Homo sapiens: one gene and its partners. The protein of the gene in region 7 purifies or fractionates together with the protein of the main gene of each other region. This does not show direct contact. Each region holds a gene or a part of one and is shown on either strand. Other genes may lie near its edges. The genes, in order: TGFB1, CHSY3, MAN2A2, SCARB1, CTSF, CEMIP2 and C1orf54.

Region 1 (3,500 bases), on a different chromosome or scaffold from region 7:
AACTCATTTGATCTGTCCAGGAGATGATTGTCTCTGTCTGGTTTCTGGCAGGGCCCATGGTGCCCCTATCTCTCTCCCTCACCTCCCTCTCATTTATGCTTTTATTCAATAATTGCCCACAGGTTCCTGCTGTGTGCCTGGCCATGTGCTGGGTGGTGTGGGGGACATAGTGATAACCAAGACAGCCCTCAGTTCTGCCCTCATGGGGCCCACAGTCACTTCTGGACACCTAAGAGATCTTGTCAAGGCCCCACCAGGCAGGAATGACCTAGAATGATCAAGAATGGGATGGGGAGGCACCAGCAGGGAGGACAAGGCTGGGACAGGGAGGCATGCAGGATGGGGGAACGCCCTAAGTGCTGTTGGGAGCCCAGAGAAGGCACCTGGACCCATCTGGGGAGTCTAGGAGGGCTTGCTGGGTGAGGGTGATTGTGTGGAGACTCACAGGATAAATAGTAGTTTGGCCACATGAAAAAAAAGGGATTAGGGGGCCTGGCATGGTGGCTCACGCCTGTAATCCCAGCACTTTGAGAGGCCGAGGTGGGTGGATCACCTGAGATCGGGAGTTCGAGACCAGCCTGACCAACATGGAGAAACCCCGTCTCTACTAAAAATACATAATTAGCTCGGCGTGGTGATGCATGCCTGTAATCCCAGCTACTCGGGAGGCTGAGGCAGGAGAATTGCTTGAACCCAGGAGGTGGAGGTTTCAGTGAGCCAAGATCGTGCCATTGCACTCCAGCCTGGGCAACAACAGTGAAACTCCGTCTCAAAAAAAAAAAAGAAAAGAAAAAGAAAAAATAGGGATTAGGGAGCAGGTGGGCACTGGGAGGAGTGTCCTGGGCTGTTCGACAAAGGCCTAGAAGGAGCTCATCTGTCTTGGTCAATGCTGAGTCCCAAGCACACAGCACAGGCTTCGGCACATTGTAGGAGCCTAGAAAACATCATTCACTCATTCATTCAAGAGATTGATGCTGGCTGGGTGCAGTGGCTCATGCCTGTAATCCCAGCACTTCGGGAGGCCAGGGCAGGAGGATTGCTTGAGCCCAGCCTGGGCAACATAGTGAGACCTCTGTCTCTACAGAGAATTTAAAAAGTAGCCGTGTAGGCCGGATGCAGTGGCTCAAGCCTGTAATCCCAGCACTTTGGGATGCCAAGGCAGGCGGATCACCTGAGGTCAGGAGTTTGAGACCAGCCTGGCCAGCATGGTGAAACCCCATCTCTACTAAAAATACAAAAAATTAGCCGGGTGTGGTGGCGCATGCCTGTTATCCCAGCTACTTGGGAGGCTGAGGCAGGAGAATCGTTTGAACCTGGGAGGTGGAGGTTGCAGTGAGCTGATATCACGCCACTGAACTCCAGCCTGGGCAACAGAGCCAGACTCCATCTCAAAAAAAAAAAAAAAATTAGCCATGCGTGGTAGCACGCGCCTGTGGTCCCAGCTACTCGGGAGGCTGAGATGGGAGGATTGCTTGGGCCTTGGAGATTGAGGCTGCGAGACCTTGTCTCAAAAAAAAAAAAAAAAAAAAAAAGAGAGAGCTGCAGTGAGAGGGCAGAGTGGGGTGGGTGGGGGAGGCAGGAAGGAAGCCCCTGGGGTTTGCTCCTTCCTTCCTCTTCCTCCAGGGGCTGGGTGAGCTGCACTCTCAGACTGGCTTCCCTCTCGCCACTCCTACAGGGGAAATTGAGGGCTTTCGCCTTAGCGCCCACTGCTCCTGTGACAGCAGGGATAACACACTGCAAGTGGACATCAACGGTGAGGCCTGCTTCCCCGGCCATGCCCAGTTGTGACGTGTGTGCGTGTGTGTGTTCCCATCTGCCCCACGCCCCACTTATCTATCCCTCTGAGAGTGTGTGTGTATGTCCCCTATCCCCTGACTCCCACACCAAAGCAGGGTTCACTACCGGCCGCCGAGGTGACCTGGCCACCATTCATGGCATGAACCGGCCTTTCCTGCTTCTCATGGCCACCCCGCTGGAGAGGGCCCAGCATCTGCAAAGCTCCCGGCACCGCCGAGCCCTGGACACCAACTATTGCTTCAGGTGAGCCTTGTAGCCTGGATGGAGGCCTTCCAGGCTGGGGGCATGACTGCCATCTGCTGACCAGGTGCTCCAGGTTGGACACCTGGCTGCTGCTGTGCTTGGGCTGAGCATCTGTCTCCTTTAGCTTGGAGGGCTCAGGGGATGAGGTCTGGGTGTAAGAACCAGGAGTCTTGTGCCAGGTGCGGTGGCTCACGCCTGTAATCCCAACACTTTGGGAGGCTGAGGCAGGTGGATCACCTGAAGTGAGGAGTTTGAGACCTGTCTGGCCAACATGGTGAAACCCGTCTCTACTAAAAATCCAAAAATTAGCCAGGCGTGGTGGGCGCCTATAATCCCAGCCACAAAAAACAAAAAAAGAACTGGGAGTCTTGTAATGTTGGGATCAGGTTCCTTTTTTTTTTTTTTTTTTTTTTTTTGAGACAGAGTCTCGCTCTGTCACCTGGGCTGGAGTGCAGTGGCGCTATCTTGATTCACTGCAAGCTCCACCTCCCGGGTTCACACGATTCTCCTGTCTCAGCCTCCCGAGTAGCTAGGACTACAGGCACGTGCCACCACGCCCAGCTAATTTTTTTGTATTTTTAGTAGAGATGGGGTTTCACTGTGTTAGCCAGGATGGTCTCCATCTCCTGACCTCGTGATACACCCACCTCAGCCTCCCAAAGTGCTGGGATTACAGGCGTGAGCCAACGCGCCCGGCCTAATTTTTTGTATCTTTAGTAGAGACTGGGTTTCACCATGTTAGCCAGGATGGTCTTGATCTCCTGACCTCGTGATCCGCCTGCCTCAGCCTCCCGAAGTGCTGGGATTACAGGTGTGAGCCACCACGCCCAGCCTTGCTTTCTTGCTGGAGTGTTGGAATCACAGAATGTTAGAAAGTTGAACCCTGTGATTGTTGGAATTCAAAGTTGGAAGGTCACCATCTTGAATCCCTAAATTGTTGGCAGGTTGAGGTTCTAGAATGCTGGGATTCTAGAATGCTAGAATTTGGTGTTAATTACTGAAATGGAAAATGTCGGACTCAAGGAAAGCTGAAACATTGGAATCCTAGAATTTGGGGATTCAAAATGGGAAGATGGCCCATGTGGAATTCCTGCACCACTGGCCAATTGTGGATACCAGTGTTGGCAGATTGGAGTCCTTGAATATTGGGCTCACAGTGGTAGAATTCTGTTTTGAAATATTCACATCCACAAATGTTGGAGTTGGAGAAAGCAGAATATTGGTATCTCAGCATGTTGGAACTCAGTGTTGGAATGTTAGAATATTAGAATGCTGGGATTTTATTAATAGAAAGTGGCAGCAGGCTGGGCGCGGTGGCTCACGCCTATAATTCCAGCACTTTGGGAGGCTGAGGTGGGCGGATCCCTGAGGTCTGGAGTTCAAGACCAGCCTGGCCAACATGGTGAAACCCCATCTCTATTAAAAATACAAAAATTAGCCAGGTGTGGTGGCTGGCACCT
Region 2 (4,025 bases), on a different chromosome or scaffold from region 7:
AAGGCACAATGATTTTGGCCAATACAGCTTAACTTTTTTTGAGATTCTGTTGCTGGACAATTTTCCTCCCTCATTGGAGAGGTAAAATTTTCCTGTCTTTGCCTTAGAAAATAAAACGGTTCATAGGCAAGAATAAAAATCATATCCTCCATTTTATTTTTTGATTAAGTTCACTTATTTTGTGGGGGTAAGAATTTCTTTCGTTTGGATCTTCAGGGTATTGGCCCTGTGAATGTGTGCCCATTTCTCCACTATTTGCCAGTCCCACTGAGCCAATCTTCTACCAAGACTGAAAATAGACCATAGTTCTCATTTCTTGAACAGATATCATCAGGAGAGCCGAGGGGGAGACCATTAGGCAGCCCCACATTTTCCAACTCAACAGGTGGAGGACATGGGATTTTTACGTTCTTTGGGGATTGAACCCCCACACACCACCAACTCCCTTAGCCTTTCAGGATAAGTATTTCCAATCCCTCAGAGATTTTCTTAGGAGAGACCCTAACGACAATGGTGCTTCTGTGAAGGACTGAGGAGAGCTGGTGGACGATGCAGGTAGGAGGGAAGTTAGGCTGGGAGGAGAGGTGCTGGGATGGGACGTTTGGTTTCCTGACAAGTGACCGACTAGAGAGAGAAGGCGCGGAGTGGCAGCGGTAAGAACAACGTGGAAAGGACGGAAAACGCGAAGAGTGGCGCCCTGGCGGACCTGGGGCGGGGCAGAGTGGTAAGGGTCACGCCAGGACGTACCCGGCTGTGGGCCGGGGGAGGAGAGCACGGTGGGACAGCAACGAACTTGCTGGGGGCTCCCGGACCCGAGCTCCGCCGATGAGGTCAGCGGAGCCTAGGCGCCGGGAGGAGGCCAGTAGAGCCCCCAGACACGAGTGTCGGGAGGCCAGCGGAGGGGCGGGACGGGACGGGAAATGGGACGAAGAGCAAGAGCTGGGGGAGGAGGGAAGAGGGGGCGTCGGCGCTGCAAGCCGGAGGCGGCCCGACAGGGATCGTTTCCTTCCGGAGAGGAGGCCGGCTCTGGACTGAGGCGCGGACGGGGGGCGTCCAAGGGCGGGTGACGGGGAAATACCGCGGCCCGCGCTTCTCTCCGGCTGGCAGCGGTGCCGCCTGCGGCTCCTCCTCCGGGCCAGCTCGGAGCCCGGCGGCGGGGGGAGCGGGAGGCGGGAGTGAGGGCGGGGGCTCGGGAAGGAGGGAGGAGGGAGGGCCCAGGCGCGCCACTGACAGGGTGGCAGCCTAGGAGCGGACGCGTTGCCGCCGCCGCTGCTCCTCCTCCTCCTCCTGCAGCTCCTCCAGCTGCCGCTGCTGCCGCCGCTGCCGCCACCGCCGCCGCCGGGAGAAGTTTCACTCCCGACCCTTGCTCGGAGCCCCGGCCCAGAGCTGAGCGGGAGCCCGGCAGGCAGCTGCAGCCCGCGGCAGTCGAGGCGTCCGCGGCGCTTCGACCTCCAGCCGGTGTCGGCGCCTAGGCGGCCGGCTGCGGCCGCGGCTGGGGGCGCAAAGGCGGAGGAGGGGCGGGTGTGAGCCGGGGAAACCGCGTGCCGCGCCGCGACAGCCCAGCGAGCGTCCGCGCCCGGGACAGCCGCGATGGCTGTGCGCTCTCGCCGCCCGTGGATGAGCGTGGCATTAGGGCTGGTGCTGGGCTTCACCGCCGCGTCCTGGCTCATCGCCCCCAGGGTGGCGGAGCTGAGCGAGAGGAAGAGACGTGGCTCCAGCCTCTGCTCCTACTACGGTCGCTCTGCTGCTGGCCCCCGCGCCGGCGCTCAGCAGCCGCTCCCCCAGCCCCAGTCCCGACCACGGCAGGAGCAGTCGCCGCCCCCCGCGCGCCAGGATCTCCAGGGGCCACCGCTGCCCGAGGCAGCACCCGGGATCACCAGTTTTCGAAGCAGCCCCTGGCAGCAGCCACCTCCGCTGCAGCAGCGGCGGCGAGGACGCGAGCCTGAGGGCGCGACGGGGCTTCCCGGTGCTCCAGCGGCCGAGGGGGAGCCCGAGGAGGAGGACGGGGGCGCGGCTGGGCAGCGGAGAGACGGCCGGCCGGGGAGTAGCCACAACGGCAGCGGGGACGGGGGCGCTGCCGCCCCGAGCGCCCGACCCCGGGACTTCCTGTACGTGGGGGTGATGACCGCGCAGAAGTACCTGGGCAGCCGCGCGCTGGCCGCGCAGCGGACCTGGGCGCGTTTCATCCCGGGCCGCGTGGAGTTCTTTTCCAGCCAGCAGCCCCCCAACGCCGGCCAGCCCCCGCCACCCCTGCCTGTCATCGCGCTACCGGGTGTGGACGACTCCTATCCTCCCCAGAAAAAGTCCTTCATGATGATCAAGTACATGCACGACCACTACCTGGACAAGTATGAGTGGTTCATGCGCGCCGACGACGATGTCTACATCAAAGGTGACCTCCCTGCGCCGGCTTTCCAGCCTGCCAGTCTCCCCGACTCCTTTCTCTGTAACCGGTCCTAGCCCCTGCCCAGCCCCTCCGCTGCTTCTCTGCCAGCACGTGCTTCGGGCTCCCACAGGCCCTGGCCCGCCCTCCCCACCCCTTGCATCCGCCCACAATTCGTAGCCCGTTCCTCGTCTTCTGCAATCTGGACCCTCCTCACACCTGCCTGGCTTTATTCGCCTTCCTCACTTGCTGTTTTCGGTGCCGCCTCGCGCTTGTCCCTTAGTCTTTACCTCGTCGGAGAGGTTAGAAAAGGAACCTTAGAGCTAAACCAAAGGCCATTCCCACTCTGCCCTCCTCTGAAAGCCCCTGCTGATGGTAGTTTCCCCAATCGGTCCAGAGGGGCGTGGTCTTCAGGAAGGGAAGACGGAGGATGCTAGCTACAACTAGTCTGGAGATCCAGTGTTCTGGCTTTGGATCTTGCTCTTTTGTTTAAACTGGATCTAGCGCACTTTTGGAACTGCTCAGATTGAGGAATCGTCTTCGCTGTCCCGGACCCTTTCCTATGTGTTCCCTTCCCTTTGGCTCAACTCTCCACATACTGGGAGTCCTTGGCCATCCCCACCGTGCCAGCGCGCTGCTCCTTCCAGCCGCTACAGTTCAGCACCAAGCCGTCCCCCATCCCCCCGCCACACCTCAATAAAACCCTGAGAGGATGGGCATGTTGTAAGGAATTGGTGGTGGGGGAAAAGAGGAAAGCACCCGCTAATAAGCCAGACCCCTGGGAACAGCAGACTGTACTAGCACACACTAGTATTGGTTCCTTTCCAGTGCATTTTGTTGGCCGCGGTGATAAGCAGAGGCTGGAAGTCCTTCCCAGAACCACAGGCAGCCACAGCAAGAAAAAACTTTTTTTGTCAGTTTAAAAGAGGCGCGGTCTTTTTCCCGGAATGTGGGCGGCTCTGGACAGAGAATTTCTAAACTCAGCGGATCAAAGTTCTTTAGGTCAGAGAAGTGAATCTTTCCAGTCCAGCCAGTTGCTGAGATGGGGAGCAACGCAAGGGAAGCAGCAGGGTTGTACCGAATGAGGTTTCTCTGTGTTTTCCACATTTCCTTGCTTCCCGGTCAAAGGGGGGCAGCCCTTCCTTATTTTATGCCTTTCTACTCGTAGCCTCATTGCTTCCTCCTGATTCGGATAGTACTTTTCACATAATGCAAGAAAAACGAACAAAAAGCCAAACAATAAACCCAAACTGTTGCATTTTGGCACAAGGAATTAGTGTAATCATAATAACTAGAGATTTCTTGGCTTTGGATTGGAAGGAGGGAAGTCACTCTAGAGCAGGTTGGAATAGAAAATACTGATAATTGGATATAAAAATAAAGAATGGTCTCATTACATTTTTAACAGTGGTATTTAGGATTGACTCAAAGAAGAAAGCTTCCTCTACTTTAAGTTCCTTGCCTTGGATATCTCAAAATTACAAAGGTTTCCTGGCAGAAGTTTGCCACATTTTGCAGGGAATTTATAAAATGCATTAACAGCACCTACTTCTTTCATTTGTTTTAATACTTTGAAAGATTGTCCTTCAGAACATTAAAATGACATATTATTTCAATTTCTATTAAGAATGAAATGTGTTTT
Region 3 (3,500 bases), on a different chromosome or scaffold from region 7:
ACTGTGTTAGCCAGGGTGGTCTCGATCTCCTGACTTCGTGATCCACTCGCCTCGGCCTCCCAAAGTGCTGGGATTACAGGCGTGAGCCACCGCGCCCAGCCGAAGGTGCCCCTTTTATGTCAGAATTAATTCCCAGGCTCCCCTACTTCTGTTAAGTCTAGAATGGCAGGATGTACAGTTCCTGCTTCTGAGGCCAGAGCCCCTGCCTCACCCCCAACTGCAGCACTGTGGCCACAATTTGCAGGAGGCTCTAGAACTGATGGGAGTGGGTTTTTGGGGTTCCCACAGGCCCAGTTTGGCACTCTTTCTGACTATTTTGATGCCCTGTACAAGAGGACAGGGGTGGAGCCAGGGGCCCGGCCTCCAGGGTTTCCTGTGCTGAGCGGGGATTTCTTCTCCTATGCGGACCGGGAGGATCATTACTGGACAGGCTATTACACTTCCCGGCCCTTCTACAAGAGCTTAGACCGAGTCCTGGAAGCCCACCTGCGGTGAGACCCTGTCCCCGCTTCCAGGCTGGAGGGGGAGAGTCAGCCTTTGGGGTTTAAGGAGGGGCTGGATTGGCTCAGAAGGGAATAGATAGGCCCAGAGGCCAGGGCAGGTAGAGGAGGGGTGGGAAGGAAGGAGGCTGCACTGGCAGAGTGTGGGTGGGCCCTGGCTAGTGGTGCAGGCTGGCAGCTAACTTCTCTCTCTGGGCAGGGGGGCAGAGGTTCTGTACAGCCTGGCTGCAGCTCACGCTCGCCGCTCTGGTCTGGCTGGCCGGTACCCACTGTCTGATTTCACCCTCCTGACGGAAGCTCGGCGCACATTGGGGCTCTTCCAGCATCACGATGCCATCACTGGCACGGCCAAGGAGGCTGTGGTGGTGGACTATGGGGTCAGGTGGGAGCCTTCTCTTTTCCCTTGTAAGCTCCCCTGCTCACTGTCCCAAAGAAAGGACATTGGGTGGTCAGGGGGTAGGCCGGCCTAGGGCTTGTCCTGCTGACAAGGCAGACAGCTTCCCTATGGTCATCTTCTCTCCTTCCCTCTCCTGCGCCACCCACAGGCTTCTGCGCTCCCTTGTCAACCTGAAGCAGGTCATCATTCATGCAGCCCACTATCTGGTGCTGGGGGACAAGGAGACCTACCACTTTGACCCTGAGGCGCCCTTCCTCCAAGTGGTGAGCCCCTCCTGGGTCTGCATGGGGACCCTCTGGTGTGTGCAGGTCCCATCCCAAGAGCTGCTGGATGGGGGTGCCGCTTCTCTTTTTCCTTCCCCATCCGGATGAGTTCTGTGCCCAGTGCAGCCGCTGGTCCACACCTGGGACAGGTGGGGTGGGAGGAGGCTGAGCCCATGATGGTTCTTCCCTTCCGGCTCACTGAATTCCAGGATGACACTCGCTTAAGTCACGACGCCCTCCCAGAGCGCACGGTGATCCAGCTGGATTCCTCGCCCAGGTAACCTGGACTACGCCATGTGCAGAGAGGCAGAGCCATTCCCTGGCTCTCAGGCCCCTCTGCCCCAGCATGTGCTGAACCAGTGCAGGGCGCTTGCCCTGGTCGGAAGCAGCAGCCTCCTGGGTCAGCCCACCTTCTACGCACAGGTTTGTGGTCCTATTCAACCCACTGGAACAGGAGCGATTCAGCATGGTGTCCCTGCTGGTCAACTCTCCCCGCGTGCGTGTCCTTTCGGAGGAGGGTCAGCCCCTGGCCGTGCAGATCAGCGCACACTGGAGCTCTGCCACCGAGGCGGTCCCTGACGTCTACCAGGTGAGGTGTGGGCTTGTCAGGTGGGCCTGGCCCTCTGCCCGTCGTGGGCCCCTCCCCGCCCGGCGACGCCAGCCTCCCACCCTCCTGCTTGTGGCCCTGCTACTCTCCAGGCTGAGGACAAGTGTCCTGGGGAGGGGGTTGTCCAGAAGACAGGCACTCTTGGGATTTGAGCGTGTCCTTGAAAAGAAGGGGAAGGTTGGTATGGTAATAGTAATGGTAAAAATAGCAGTTATAATGCCCCATCATTCAGTCATTCAATGTTTATCGAAAGCTTAATGTGTTGTTACCGCTTCATACTTTTTCAAATATCACTTGAGAATCATAAAGTCTGATGAGGAAGAAAGGGCAAATCAGATCACCTCCACTTTGGAGGAGGGGCAGAGGCCCAGCGGGTGCAGGGGCTTGCTCAAGCCCTCTGTTAGTAAGCGGATGCCTCAGCACCCCTGTGGCGAAAGCCGTGCCCCCACTTCCTCACCCCTCCTGTGCCCACAGGTGTCTGTGCCTGTCCGCCTGCCAGCCCTGGGCCTGGGCGTGCTGCAGCTACAGCTGGGCCTGGATGGGCACCGCACGCTGCCCTCCTCTGTGCGCATCTACCTGCACGGCCGGCAGCTGTCCGTCAGCAGGCACGAAGCGTTTCCTCTCCGTGTCATTGACTCTGGCACCAGCGACTTCGCCCTCAGCAACCGCTACATGCAGGTCTGGTTCTCAGGCCTTACTGGGCTCCTCAAGGTAAAAGGCCAGGGTGGTGGGGAAGGGCCAGGGGCCAGAGTAGGGCGTGTGTGGTGGTGGCACTGTGCAGAGCGGCCTCCCGGCCCTGTGAGCATTCTGCCACCTGACCCACAGTGGACCGGGGCCTGGGCCATCTCAGCTCCAGCCTGACAGCATGGGGAAGCAGGGCACGGCTCCTTGGGGAAGCTATTCCGTGTCCTCCCAGGAGGCAGGCCTGACATGCTGGTGTGGGGCCAGGGGTCAGGGCTGTGTTTTTTGGCAGAGCATCCGAAGGGTGGATGAGGAGCACGAGCAGCAGGTGGACATGCAGGTCCTTGTCTATGGCACCCGTACGTCCAAAGACAAGAGTGGAGCCTACCTCTTCCTGCCCGATGGCGAGGCCAAGGTATCCTAAAGATGCCTTGAACAACCTGGCAGGGAGGGCAGGAGGGGGCACAGGCCTTCCCACAGGTTTATTGCTGCCTGCCAGGGGCCTTGTCTTTCCTGTTCAGCCCAGGGGTGTCTGGGAATAGGTGCTCTCTTGCCCAGCCCTGGGCTGGCACCTTCCTGCTTTGCCCTCTGTGCTGTAGTTTCAACAGCAATCTGCTCTTTCTCTAGCCCTACGTCCCCAAGGAGCCCCCCGTGCTGCGTGTCACTGAAGGCCCTTTCTTCTCAGAGGTGGTTGCGTACTATGAGCACATTCACCAGGCGGTCCGGCTTTACAATCTGCCAGGTGAGCCCTGCATATGAGGAAGGGTCTGGAAGGAGGTGTGGGCTCCACAACTGTGGCGTATTCTTCCTTCTGCTGCTTCTCTGTTCATACCTCTGTTCCGTATCATTTGAGACAGGGATGCTCCATTCTCTTGGAGAAAAAGTCATCCAGAAATGCCCTGGGGATTTCTTGGGAGGTTGGACAGAGCCTCTCCCCAGCTCGGCTCTGATCCCCCAGCCCAGCCTCTTAGCTGTGCTTCAGCCTCACACCTGTCCATGCCCCCACTTTGTTCCTGTACCCAGGGGTGGAGGGGCTGTCTCTGGACATATCA
Region 4 (3,500 bases), on a different chromosome or scaffold from region 7:
CTCACCTTGCTCAGCCCGTTCCACTTGTCCACGAGGTGGATCCTGCTGATGTTCTGGACCCCCGTGAACACCGTGAAGAGCCCAGAGTCGGAGTTGTTGAGCTACAGACACAGCAGGGAACAGCATCGTAAGGCTTAGGCCTGCCATTGAGCCGGCCTGGTCTGAACATTCTGGGCTGAGCCCTCCTCCCCCTCCACCAGAAGGACAGGGCCCCCAGCATCTGGTTCACTGCCAAATGCCCAGTGTCTGGGGACCGAGAGGAGGCTTGGGAGCTTTCTAGGAGGAATGGTCCCGGGTTCTGTGGCTGCAGTGTTCCACCCTCCCTTCCTAACTCCAGGAGAGTCTGGCTTTCCTCCCAGGTAAATGGCAGATCACCCCCACCACACCCTACTCCAGCATAAAATAAAGCATGGCCAGGTCAGCTCCCTGAGCAATGAAAAAGGAGAAGTGGCATGTCACTTGGGGGGATGCTTTAAGGACTGTGCACACGCCTTTCACCGGGCTCTCTGCCGCTGCTATAGCAGCCAAGGAGGTATGTGTCAAGACAGAGCCTCCCTCAGCCTGGATCCCCAAGTGACCACCACAAGCGCGGGTGCCCCAGTCACCCACACTGGACGTGGAGTGCAAGCAAAGGAATAAGTCTTGGTTGTTCTAAGCCATGGAGATTCCGGGGCTGCTTGTCACAGCAGCAAAACCTGGCCTGTCCTAACCCATCGAGGTTCTTGATAGTGGGGCCCAGGCTTTGGTGCTCCGAGAGCATTTCCCAGAAGCTGGTTTCTAATCCCAAAGACATGCAAAGCACAAAGTGGTATGAGTGACTGAAGGAAATATCTAGAAGTGCTTTGCAGGGTGGAGCACACTGAGGAGCTCCAAGGTTGCCCGGCTGAGTGACTGCACCCATCACAGACCTCCAGAGCAGGACCCAGCACAAGGCCCCAGCCCAGCATCCCGGGTGTGTCTGTCACGTGCCCATGTGGAGCCAAGAATAACCAGAGCCACTACAAAGGGGAGCATTAAAGGGACTCATGTGCAAAAACGGCCAGGTACAGTGCACCGGACACAGTAAGAGCTCAAAATGATAGTCTTTATTTTCATTATTATTGTTATTATTAATAAATGCTCACCCAATAGGATACTTAAATGATCATTATAATGGACGGAGAGCATCAGAAACTGCCAGTTACTACCCAAAGCCCAATCTCTCCTTACTCTTTCATACAAAACCCAAACCATACTCAGAGCATCAGCACACCCAGCTAAAAGGCTACCTTTCCAGCTTCCCCTGGAGCTAGGTGTGGCCATGTGACTCAGTTCTGGCCAATAGAAAGGAAGTGGACATTGGTTTTCTTCCTCCCTAAGAGGGAGGAAACTGGAACACGCTGTTTTACCCCCAGTTCCTCCATCTGCTCCCCAAAGCCCCACCATTTTTTCCTTCTTGCTGTGCTGCCTGGAATGTGATGTGATTGCTGACACTCTAGCAGCCAACTTGGACAATGAGGTTATCTTGAGGATGAAAACCACATGCCAAGGATGGCAGAGCACAGTAGTAGAAGGCTTCCAGATCACTTAAGACCATGAAGCCACCACACCAACACTGAACAGCCTACCGCTAGACTTTTCTTGTGAGGTTTTCATTATATGCAGTCAAACGTAGATTATACTAAACTAGGGACTTTGTAATAACTTTCATTTGCAAAGCACTTCAGGATTTACAAGATGCCTTTACAGCATCATGCCACTTAGCCCAAACTTGCTCATTTACCCACACGACAGGAGCCCGTCACCCTTGACAAAAACGTACTGAGTATCTATCACACGCAGCACCACGATATCCCCCCCAGCACTCTACCCTGATCAGCAGAGACCAAAGAGATGGCTGAGGCTGGAGCAGTCCCAAGGACTCAGTGAAACCTGCGGTGAGGGAGCCAAGGTCAGGGTCAGACCCTCCATGGACGAGATGTTGGCTCCGAAGCCCAGTCAGTGACCCTACCAGGTTGCCAAGAGTCAAGATTAAGAGTCAGCTTGTGATATTACTCCCCAGCAGCCATGCCCCCTTCCTCCAGCAAAGCCTCCAATTTGCTAAGCTAAGGCCCAGTCACATCATTTGAGCCTGGATCAAGCTGTACCTGAATCCAACCCTAGCATTTTCAGTTCTATGAGCCCCAACATTCCCCATTTCACTCAAGCCGGTTTGAGTCAGGTTCTCAGTCACTTACAACCCACAGCCACTAGATCCCCAGCCAGCTACAAAGCAAGCTGGTGACCAGTGTCCAGGCTGTGTGAGGGGAAGACAGGACACAGGCCTGAATCTTTGGCTTCTCACCAGGCCACACGTACCTCAGCAAATAATCCGAACTTGTCCTTGAAGGGGAACATGCCTGGAAAGTACTTGTTGATGAGATTCACAAGGGGGTCCTTGTAGCCCCACATGATCTCACCCACAGTGCGGTTCATGAAGGCACGTTCGCCGAGGGTGGTGAATGCCAAGGTCATGATGAGCTTCAGGGTCATGGGCTTATTCTCCATCATCACCGCCGCACCCTGCAAGGCGAAGGGACACTAGTGTCAGAGGCTGGACGTGGCTGGCCCATCCTCCCTTGGCCCCAGCTGGGCCTCACAGCAAAGAGCCCATGAAGGGAAATGCTGGGGTGCAGGAGGCCCCTGGAGTGGCCACGTGGGGCATCTGGGACACCAGAACCACCCTCTGCTCCTCCAGTGCCAAGGCCACATGTGCTCCCGAGAACCCCTTCTCCCCCTTGCACCCCACTGGACTCAGGCTAAGTGAACTCCAGCCCCAGTCCCAGAGGCGGGCCTGTGGCTCAGCCCTCAACAAGACAGCCCCTTTTGGAGATCTCAGAAATGTAAATTGAAAAGGGAAAAAAAAGTACTTTGGCCAGGACTTCCAAACCAAGACAGGTGGACCCACCTGGGAAACTCAGAACCCACTGGGGGTGGTGGAGACAGCACAGGGCCGAAAGCCACCCACCAGGCGTGAGTCCCCACGCTCCGACCACCTCAGGGACTGCTCTCTGCACAAGGGGCAGGCGGGAGGAGAGACAGGGGACGAGGTCAGGGTGCGAGGCGGCGTGGGCCACAGGGCAGCCTCACCAAGACCAGGATGTTGGGCATGACGATGTAGTCGCTCTCCGAGCCGTGGGACTTGGAGGGCTGGAACTGGAAGGTGCGGTACTCGAGGAAGGACACGGTGTCGTTGTTGTTGAAGGTGATGTTGCTTTTGTGCCTGAACTCCCTGTGGGGGAAGCCAGTGGGTCAGACGCCCCGCCCCGCTGCATGGGACGTTTCCCTTCTACTCGCCTGCAATGCCTGCCTGGGAACCAGGGGCCCTGGACGTCTGTGCACACCTCCGGCCCCACAGCCAAAGCTGAGCTCGGCCCCTTCGCCAAGTCTGTCCCTCCCGCCGCCTGCCCACTGCAGGACATGGTGTCGCCGCCCACCCGGCCTCGTTCTGCTCTCCCCCACCCAACACGGCCATCGTCTCT
Region 5 (2,643 bases), on a different chromosome or scaffold from region 7:
AGGCGGTGGAGGGGCTGGTGGGCTAGGGCAGGGCACGGGACCTGTGGGTCCTCAACGCCTCTTCTCCCCAGAACTACATCACCCCCGAGGAGCTGCGGCGCGAGCTCCCTGCCAAGCAGGCCGAGTACTGCATCCGCCGTATGGTGCCCTACAAGGGATCCGGGGCCCCGGCTGGAGCCCTGGACTACGTGGCCTTCTCCAGTGCCCTCTATGGGGAGAGCGACCTTTGACCCCAACCACTGAGGTTCTCTATGCAAGATGGAGAGAGGATGCACCCTGTGGCTGATCCCATCCGTCCCTCGGAGCAAGGGCCTAAGAGAAAAGCCAGCCAAGTGCTTCTGAATAAAGATCCCTCTCTGGGTCTCTCCCCATCTCCTTTTAGTTCCTGAAGCAGAAGCTGGCCCCTCAGGCTCCTGGGCAGGACCAGCTATCCCACCTTGACCCGCCAGGAGTCCCTGCCATCTCTCCTCACCCCCGGGGACTGAGCATTTATACCACACTCGGGACAAGGACACCTCTTTATTGCTGTTAGAAAAGGGTGGTTACAAGTTTCCTGGACATGGAGAGGGACACTATCCCTAAATCCAAGGGAACCAGAAAATTTATAGTATCAAACAGAGGAAAGCGGGGGCAGAACAGAGCTGGGCTTAAGATCAGAAAATTTTCTTCCTGCTCATTACCCAAGCCCAGAGTTCTTGCCCCAGCTTCAACTGCCAAGATACCACCCTTCACCCCGACATCCTCCTAAGCTACCACAATTCAACAAAGGTGCAGGTGCAGAACTTCAGGGTGGGAATGGGGTGCAGGGAAGCAGGGGCTGTGCCCCAGCCCAGTGCCCTCTGCTCACCCTGAGGTACCCAGTGCCTTTCCCTCTGCCAGCTGTACCTCCCGGGGAGGGGCCTGGACACATGTCAGGCTGGGGCAGCAGCCACTCTGATCAGCACCAGGTCCCGAGCTGGGGGCCCCTCTTCAGTCCACCACCGCCGAGCTGGCCATGGTGTTCACGCCACAGGCCCCGGACCCACGATGCAAGTAGTAGTAACCCTGGGGGAGAGGGGGAGCTGGTGAGGGCACCAGGGTAGGATGGCGGCTGGAGGGCCAGGGGCCAAGCCAGCAAGACTCACCTTCTCACCCCAGTCAGTGCCCCAGCTGTTCTTGATGGCCCAAAAGGGAACGTCAGAGCCTGGGGTGCAGTGCAGAGCGCAAGGATCAGGGTCCTTAATTCTCCAGGCAGAGCCTTAATCACTTTGCACCCTTCAAATACTTGCACTGGGCCTACTGTGTGACAGGGACTAGGAAAAGAGCAGAAAGCGAGGGGCCCACCTACCAGCCTCAGGGAGAAGCCCTGGGGCAGGGAGGAAGCACGCACCCACCCGCCTATTGCAGGTTATTAGGCCATCAATATTTACCCTCCCACAGCTCAGCTTCCCTGCCATAGAGAGGACAGATGATGCCCAGCTGGTCATGGCCCAGGCAGTGGGTAAGGACAGGGTTCCTAGGCATTCCCCCTATTTCCCCTCTAGAGGACCTGAGATGCTGTGATCCCACCCCTGCCTGTGGCCTGGCTGGATGCAGGACAGGCAGCGGAACTCACGGTTGCCGTAGCCCACAAGCAACACCGCATGGTCAATGAGCCAAGGGCTGCAGAGGGGCCGGAGAGGGCGGGAGATCCCGTGGCGGTAAAACTGGAGGTGGAGAAGGAGTAGGGGATCGACTCCAAGAAGAGGTCGGGGAGGTCAACAAGAGATGGGGCAGGGGCAGTGGGGCTAGGGCCTCACCTGCATGCCAAAGGCATTGATGGCCACGGAGATTGGGCCTCTCTTGGCCAGCCAGGCTGCCAGCTCTGAGATGGGAAGGGGTGGCATCAGTAGGCACCCAGGCCCCGGCCCCACCTGACCTCACCTCACCCTGCCCCTCACTCACTCTGCTCGTTCTGGCTCAGCTCCACGGAGTCATTGATGTAGACCTTGGCCTTCTCTGCTGAGAAGTTGCAGGACTGCATGTGACCCTGGTAGCTGTAGTCATCCTCTGTCTCCAGCCCTCCTGGGGAACGGTGGGGGTGAGTAGAGAAGGGCAGGCTCCCATTTGCCATTCACAGCCAGAAATGAACTAAGCCCTCTACGCGAGGTTTCACATTCCTCGTCCACCCCAGGCCACAGGCCATCCCCTCTGAAGAATGTCTTCATTCTAGAAATGACACATCTGAGGCTGGGAGAGATGGGGAGGAGGGACCAGTAGCCAGCAAGAAAAGTGGCAGAGACAGAACTCAACTCCAACTTCTGACTCCTCACCAAGAGCTCATCCCAGCAGTCTTTCACCCAGGCTGGAGTACAGTGGCACAAACATGCCTCACTACAGCCTCAACCTCCTGGGCTCAAGCGATCCTCCTGCCTCAGCCCCCCAAGTAGCTGAGACTACAGATGCAAGCCACCATGCCTGGCTAATGTCTTTAATTTTTTGTAGAGATGGGGTCTTGCTATGTTGCCCAACCTGGTCCTGAACTTCTGGCCTTAAGTGATCTTCCCAAGTTGGCCTCCCAAAGTGTTGGAATTACAGGCATGAGCCACCACGCCTGGCTGGGTCAGCATTAAGACCTGGACCCAGTTCTGTGTAACTCTCATGCTCATGTCTCCCCCCCATTAT
Region 6 (3,500 bases), on a different chromosome or scaffold from region 7:
AATAATGAGGATTCCTTAACTTTTCTACCTCCCTCTTCCCATACAACATCTAGCTGAAATTCTCCATAGTTTTATAACAAGCACTGTACCCAGCTATAAAGAAGGAAATCCAGTCTTTTGAGATCTGGAGCCTACTTCAATGATTATATAATTTCTCTTAATTGTTTTTAATTATTTCCCAGGAGAGCATGGTTCATTAGAACCATCACCAAAAATTCCAGTCTGTTTCCTTCCAGTAAAATGCACTTAATGAGAAAATGTGTAGTCTGTACAAAGCACTGAAAAGTAGCTCAGCCAACCCCACCTTCCCAGCTACCCACTTGAAGAGCAGTGAGTATATTATCAAAGTTATGTAACAGCAATAACCACAGTCAAGCTGACCCTGAAATATTTCAGCATACCAGATCTTTCCACTGATGATCTGCACTTTACACTGCCAAAATGTGAAACTAAAGAATGTTGGTTCAAGGAACCATATCAGCAATGCCCTGTTTTAGATGGAATATGAAAACACCAATCAAAGCCATAGACTTCAGCTCTGATTTCCCACTGGTCTAGCATCCCTTTACTGCAGAAGAGTTGGGAAGTATGAATCAGCACAGTGAACTTGGTTATTATGAATCAGCACAGAGAACTTGGTTATTCTGCTGGGAAAAGGAGAGAGGAAGTCATACCGCATGCAATGGAAATCAATGTTATAAGTTCATAATGTGGTCTACTTGTTTGGTCCATAAGGATATTAATGTGCATGTCTCTCTCATTTGAGGTTTATTTTCTTAGAAGTACTAGCACTACCTCTCCCAGAACCTTAAAATTTTAAAAATCCCTTGAAAGCACCCAAGAAAACTAAATAATAAAGTATTTGTAAGTCTTATAAGTAGTAAAATGCCTCTGAACTGTTACAGCCACTTAAGGAAGCATTTAACTTGACAAAAATCTGTTGTAGACAAATATGGTACCCAGTCCAGGCTGTTAGAGTCTTCTCTCTTCACAGCCCCGAGTCCTTTGATTTTAGACAGATGGATGGTATTCTTTTATGAGGCAATTCTTTGTTGGTATTCCAATAAGGCTGACTTGCAACCATCTTCTTCAAAACTTTTCAAAATATTGATATATCATTAACTTGAAAAGAAAATACCATTTAAGAAATTAAAATCTCCCTGCATAATATTTAACTATGAAGTAATGACTGATTTTTAGACAAAGGTGTCAGAACTTATATATCCTAAAGGATGCTTCCCTTCCAGGATATATATTGTTACTCAAAAATATTTGAAACTTTTCCTTTGGAACTGCTTCCCAAGCCCATTTCAAGCCACAAACACAAATATTATTATTTTTAGTCACTTACTTAAACAAAAAAATCTAATATAGTTCACTATACGTATGACTAAAAAAAAAAAAACTTGCGGCCGGGCATGGTGGCTCACACCTGTAATCCCAGCACTTTGGGAGGCCAAGACAGGCAGATCACCTGAGGTCAGGAGTTCGAGACCAGCCTGGCCAACATGGTGAAACCCTGTCTCTACTAAAAATACAAAAATTAGCCAGATGTGGTGGCACTTGCCTGTAGTCCCAGCTACTCAGGAGGCTGAGGCATGAGAATCATTTGAACCCAGGGGGCGGAGGTTACAGTGAGCCAAGAACACACCACTGCACTCCAGCCAGGACAACAGAGCAAGACTGCCTCAAAAAAAGAAAAAAAGAAAAAAAAAATTGCAGCAGTCCAAAAATCATACCTACCATAAGAATTTAGTGAAGGCCCTCAAAGCATTTCCAAAAGAGGTACTCCAAGACCTCCCTGAGTGCTGCAACAAAGTGGCACAATGGACAGGAAGAGCAACCATTTAATCATTTCCAACAGATTATTGAACAATTGCTCTCATTCATAAGAAGTGACACCTCGTATTACCTAACTACATATTAGTTAGCTAGGGCCAACTTAAGATAAATTTTTTTTTAAGTATTCTACTATTTCCTCCTCTTTTGTCTTCTAGAATATGTTCTATGTGCATATACACACACTTACCATCTGGAGCATATTTTGAGGATATTCCTAAAATGATTGCAAGTGCAATAAAAAATGAGAAACTAGTAATAGCAAAACAAATGAAAGTATTTTTGTGTCTCTTTTGCTTTTGACTTTCTCTCTGGGCTTGCTGTTCTTCAGGTGAGAATGCGAAGGTTGCCCGGTCTTCTCGTCTGATGGAGGTAAATTTGGCTGAAGCTTGACTCTTTGGAGGAGGAGGGGGACGCAATGGGACAACCTTCCCTGGAACATAGCCAGATGGGTGACGACTATTTCCATTCTGAGGTTGGAGGAAAGCAGGGGAGTGTCCCCTGGAATCAGTGGCATACATGATACACTGTTACTGTGAAAAGAAAAAAAAATTAAGCTTCAGTATGTGTAAATTCTTTTTTAATTTCTTTTATTTATTTATTTATGAGATGGAGTTTCACTCTTGTTGCCCACACTGGAGTGCAATGGCATGATCTCGGCTCACCGCCACCTCTGCCTCCCAGGTTCAAGTGATTCTCCTGCCTCAGCCTCCCGAGTAGCTGGGATTAGAGGCATGCACCACCACGCCCAGCTAATTTTTTTTTTTTTTTTTAAGTAGAGACAATGTTTCTCCATGTAGGTTAGGCTGGTCTCGAACTCCCAACCTCAGGTGATCCACCCACCTCAGCCTCCCAAAGTGCTGGGATTACAGGTGTGAGCCACCGCAACTCGCCTTTAATTTCTATTTTTTAGAGACAGGGTCTCACTCTGTTGCCCAGACTGAAGTGCAGTGGCATGATCATAGATCACTACAGTCTCGCACTCCTGGGCTCAAGCAATCCTCCTGCCTGAGCCTCCCGGGTAGCCAGGACTACAGGTACATCCCACGATGATTGGCTAATTTTTAAATTTTTTGTAGAGATGGGATCCTGCTATATTGCCTAGGCTGGTCTCAAACTCCGGAGCTCAAGTGATTCTTCCACCTCAGCCTTGCAAAGTGCTGGGATTACAGGCGTGAGCCCCAGTATCCAGCTGGAATGTATGAATCATAAATGGTTTTTTTAAAGTACTTTTTAAATTGTGTTAAATATACCATAAACTTACATTTTAACTATGTTAAGCGTACAATTCAATGGCATTACGTACATTCACAAAGTTGTGTGACCATCACCACTATCCATTTTCAGAACTTTTTCATCATCCCAAACAAAAACTCTATATCCATTAAGTAACTCTCCATTTTTCCCAGCCCCTGGTAACCATCATAATGACTTCTTGAAAATATCAAGTCAGCTTACATCCCTGATCTAATAAACCATGTTGACAATCACCTTCATTACTTGTGTTCTAATGTCACTCCTTCTCAACCCTGGCTGCATAGTGTAATCACCCGCTAAGGTGAATGCTCAGGGCACCACGGCTAAACAATTCAATCAGGATTGCTGTCCCTGGGATCTAAGTATTTGCAGCTTTTAAATGCTCCCCAAGTGATTCTCATGAA
Region 7 (2,813 bases):
TCCATTCCATTCATTAATTTCTCTTCCTCCCACTCACTACAGGCACAGTCACTGGCCTTCTGAGCTTGTGTGTACTGGCTCTGTTGAGCTCATTTACTTTCATATCTGTGACTTTGCACTTAGAACTCTAGCCCTGATCTAGTTCAGTGACCTTTAGGACACCCTCATAGGGCTGTCACCATAAACTCAGCTTGGCCATTACCAAATTAATAACTTCTGTCCTAAACCACTCTGGCCTCCCATAGTTCCCACTTTGGTCAACCATTTTCCCAGACATCCATGTTTAAAACCCATGAGTTATTTTAACTCACTCCTCATTTATACTTCATATAAAATTATCACTCAAGCAAGGTATTTTCTTCATAATATTTATTTTTCTCCTCTCCATTCATAATGCCAGAGTACAGATTGTTTCTGGAACAACGCAAATCTCATGAGTTGCTTTCCACTAAATTATTTACATCCTGCATACAACCTGAAGAGTGGTTTTTCTTTTTCTTTTTTTGAGATGGAGTTTCACTCTTGTTTCCCAGGCTGGAGTGCAATAGCGCGATTTCGGCTCACTGCAACCTCCGCCTCCCAGGTTCAAGCGATTCTCCTGCCTCAGCCTCCCAGGTAGCTGGGATTACAGGCATGTGCCACCACACCCAGCTAATTCTGTATTTTTACTATAGACAGGGTTTCTCCATGTTGGTCAGGCTGGTCTCGAACTCCCGACTTCAGGTGATCAGCTCACTTCAGCCTCCCAAAGTGCTGAGATTACAGTCGTGAGCCACCACACCTGGCCGGTTTTTCTAAAATATCACTTTTCATCGTGTTTTTACCATAATGAAGAACTTACTAGGCTCCTTGTTGATTATGAGTCCAGACTTCAGCCTGACACCTGAGACTCTCTGAAATTTGCCCCTATGTTGCCACATGTGAAATTACTAAGCAAGTATTAGGAGCCTTGTAAATTTTATATTTTTCTTAATTCCCACTGTTCCCTTCCATATACCCTCTCCTTCAATCATACCCTATTTGCTAAACATATTATGCTTGTTCTATTCCCCCCTCCTGTGCAGCTCTTTCACTCTTTTTTTTTTTTTTTTTTTTTTTTTAGTATAGAGTCTCACTCTGTCGCCCAGGCTGGAGTAGAGTGGCGTGATCTCGGCTCACTGCAACCTCTGCCTCCCGGGTTCAAGTGATTCTCATGCCTCAGCTTCCCAAGTAGCTGGGATTACAGGCACGCACCACCACGCCTGGCTAACTTTTGTATTTTTAGTAGAGATGGGGTTTCCACCATGTTGGCCATTGAACTAGCCTTGAACTGCTGACCTCAAGTGATCCGACCACCTTGGCCTCCCCAAAGTGCTGGGATTACAGGCATAAGCCGCCATACCTGGCCTCTTTCACTCTTGGAATAACTATTCTTCCTCCTAATTGCTTCTGTCCTTCCATAACTACCCACCAATCAAAAGCTCATCTATTCTTCAGGGTGTATCTCAAGCACAAATGCCTCTTGAAAGCTTTTCAGACAACTCTAGCCTGTACTAATCTCTCTTCTTACATTGGCTAAAGCACTGCCAGTATCTTCTGCTTTCAAATTTATATATAATTTAACATCATAACATACCTTTTCATTTTGTTCTAAGTGTTTCGTAAACTTGAATTTTATAAATCCTTGAGGACAGTAACATAGATTTCTTTTTTATCAGCATCAGTTACCTTAGCAGCCTTAGGCATAGATTACATACCTATTGAATACTACTGAACTGAAATTTAACTGTACCATATCTTCCCAGTGTTCTGTAAACAGGGTTAGTATTAAATCTTAGTGAAACATGGCCAAGTTGAGATGAATACCTGCAATGAAGTACTAATTATTTGGTTCTCCCATCCACCAAAGCCTGGTATTCCAGCCCTCTATGTATTCCACGTCACTAGGGATGTCCTGTCTCCCCCCAGCCCCCAATCCCCAATCAACTCACAGGTTCCGTTGTTACTGGTTTCACAGTTACAGGCTTCGGATGGTCTGCACGTGCTGTTTCAAGACTAATGGTAGTCTCTATTGCTTCTGTTATGTCCTTATCCAACCTGTTCTACCCTCAGTAGGATTTGGGAAACACAGAGTTATCAGTTTTTCCATCCAACATCTTCATAGATTCTCTACTTAAAGTTCTCCCCTTCACCACCTCCACCCAGCCCAAAGACTTAAGCTCAGGGATTCCCCCCTACCCTATGCTTGCATAGATTTGTACCCATCTCATTCAAAAGTCCCTTGATGCCCCTCCTCAGTGTCTTAGCAAACTTACTGAGGACAATTTATAAAGTTCTGGCTTTTTTCTCCTCCCCAGATAGGTTAACAAATCTGTTTTGGGCCTACTACTTAGTTTCTCCTCATCAAACTCATTTTTATTCTTGTTAATCAGATACATTTCAACATTGCCCAGTTTCTTTTCTTTTCTTTTTTCTTTTTTTTTTGTAGATGAAGTCTGGATCTGTCACCCAGGCTGGAGTGCAGTGGAACGATCTTGGCTCACTGCGTCCTCCATCTCCCGGATTCAAGTGATTCTCCTACCTCAGCCTTCTGAGTAGCTGGGATTATAGGCATATGCTACCATGTCCAACTAATGTTTTTGTATTTTTAGTAGAGACGGGGTTTCACCATTTTGGCCAGGCTGGTCTCAAACTCTTGACCTCAAATGATCCACTCGCCTTGGCCTCCCAAAGTGCTGGGATTATAGGCATGAGCCACTGCGCCCGGCCAGTTTCTTTTTAATTGTTACTTATCCTAACCCTTTTAGATGTAGAGTTCACTCACCAGCCTGTCC

Evidence for each region.
Region 1: the proteins of C1orf54 (region 7) and TGFB1 purify together in Homo sapiens (co-immunoprecipitation; 2 studies listed by BioGRID and IntAct, with this or other methods). This does not show direct contact.
Region 2: the proteins of C1orf54 (region 7) and CHSY3 purify together in Homo sapiens (co-immunoprecipitation; 2 studies listed by BioGRID and IntAct, with this or other methods). This does not show direct contact.
Region 3: the proteins of C1orf54 (region 7) and MAN2A2 purify together in Homo sapiens (co-immunoprecipitation; 2 studies listed by BioGRID and IntAct, with this or other methods). This does not show direct contact.
Region 4: the proteins of C1orf54 (region 7) and SCARB1 purify together in Homo sapiens (co-immunoprecipitation; 2 studies listed by BioGRID and IntAct, with this or other methods). This does not show direct contact.
Region 5: the proteins of C1orf54 (region 7) and CTSF purify together in Homo sapiens (co-immunoprecipitation; 2 studies listed by BioGRID and IntAct, with this or other methods). This does not show direct contact.
Region 6: the proteins of C1orf54 (region 7) and CEMIP2 purify together in Homo sapiens (co-immunoprecipitation; 2 studies listed by BioGRID and IntAct, with this or other methods). This does not show direct contact.

What each region holds. Positions count from the first base shown.
Region 1 is NC_000019.10:41,340,423-41,343,922, reverse strand, and holds part of TGFB1 (transforming growth factor beta-1 proprotein preproprotein), read left to right. Parts: intron 1-1,675; coding exon 1,676-1,753; intron 1,754-1,889; coding exon of another isoform or gene 1,890-1,892; coding exon 1,893-2,040; intron 2,041-3,500. UniProt on the Homo sapiens protein: Transforming growth factor beta-1 proprotein: Precursor of the Latency-associated peptide (LAP) and Transforming growth factor beta-1 (TGF-beta-1) chains, which constitute the regulatory and active subunit of TGF-beta-1, respectively.
Region 2 is NC_000005.10:129,903,240-129,907,264, forward strand, and holds the start of CHSY3 (chondroitin sulfate synthase 3), read left to right. Parts: upstream 1-1,225; 5' UTR 1,226-1,590; coding exon 1,591-2,392; intron 2,393-2,602; exon of another isoform or gene 2,603-2,688; intron 2,689-4,025. UniProt on the Homo sapiens protein: Has both beta-1,3-glucuronic acid and beta-1,4-N-acetylgalactosamine transferase activity. Transfers glucuronic acid (GlcUA) from UDP-GlcUA and N-acetylgalactosamine (GalNAc) from UDP-GalNAc to the non-reducing end of the elongating chondroitin polymer.
Region 3 is NC_000015.10:90,909,802-90,913,301, forward strand, and holds part of MAN2A2 (alpha-mannosidase 2x), read left to right. Parts: intron 1-288; coding exon 289-491; intron 492-699; coding exon 700-882; intron 883-1,045; coding exon 1,046-1,160; intron 1,161-1,369; coding exon 1,370-1,437; intron 1,438-1,583; coding exon 1,584-1,749; intron 1,750-2,241; coding exon 2,242-2,478; intron 2,479-2,715; coding exon of another isoform or gene 2,716-2,740; coding exon 2,741-2,863; intron 2,864-3,075; coding exon 3,076-3,190; intron 3,191-3,471; coding exon 3,472-3,500.
Region 4 is NC_000012.12:124,811,865-124,815,364, forward strand, and holds part of SCARB1 (scavenger receptor class B member 1), read right to left. Parts: intron 3,251-3,500; coding exon 3,109-3,250; intron 2,542-3,108; coding exon 2,338-2,541; intron 102-2,337; coding exon 6-101; intron 1-5. UniProt on the Homo sapiens protein: Receptor for different ligands such as phospholipids, cholesterol ester, lipoproteins, phosphatidylserine and apoptotic cells. Receptor for HDL, mediating selective uptake of cholesteryl ether and HDL-dependent cholesterol efflux.
Region 5 is NC_000011.10:66,562,964-66,565,606, forward strand, and holds the end of CTSF (cathepsin F precursor), read right to left. Parts: intron 2,044-2,643; coding exon 1,924-2,043; intron 1,844-1,923; coding exon 1,779-1,843; intron 1,686-1,778; coding exon 1,595-1,685; intron 1,184-1,594; coding exon 1,125-1,183; intron 1,045-1,124; coding exon 970-1,044; 3' UTR 501-969; downstream 1-500. Other genes in the region: ACTN3 (alpha-actinin-3), read left to right, coding at 72-230. UniProt on the Homo sapiens protein: Thiol protease which is believed to participate in intracellular degradation and turnover of proteins. Has also been implicated in tumor invasion and metastasis.
Region 6 is NC_000009.12:71,748,014-71,751,513, forward strand, and holds part of CEMIP2 (cell surface hyaluronidase CEMIP2), read right to left. Parts: intron 2,373-3,500; 5' UTR 2,361-2,372; coding exon 2,030-2,360; intron 1-2,029. UniProt on the Homo sapiens protein: Cell surface hyaluronidase that mediates the initial cleavage of extracellular high-molecular-weight hyaluronan into intermediate-size hyaluronan of approximately 10-5 kDa fragments.
Region 7 is NC_000001.11:150,275,790-150,278,602, reverse strand, and holds part of C1orf54 (uncharacterized protein C1orf54 isoform b precursor), read right to left. Parts: coding exon 2,804-2,813; intron 2,082-2,803; coding exon 1,971-2,081; intron 1-1,970.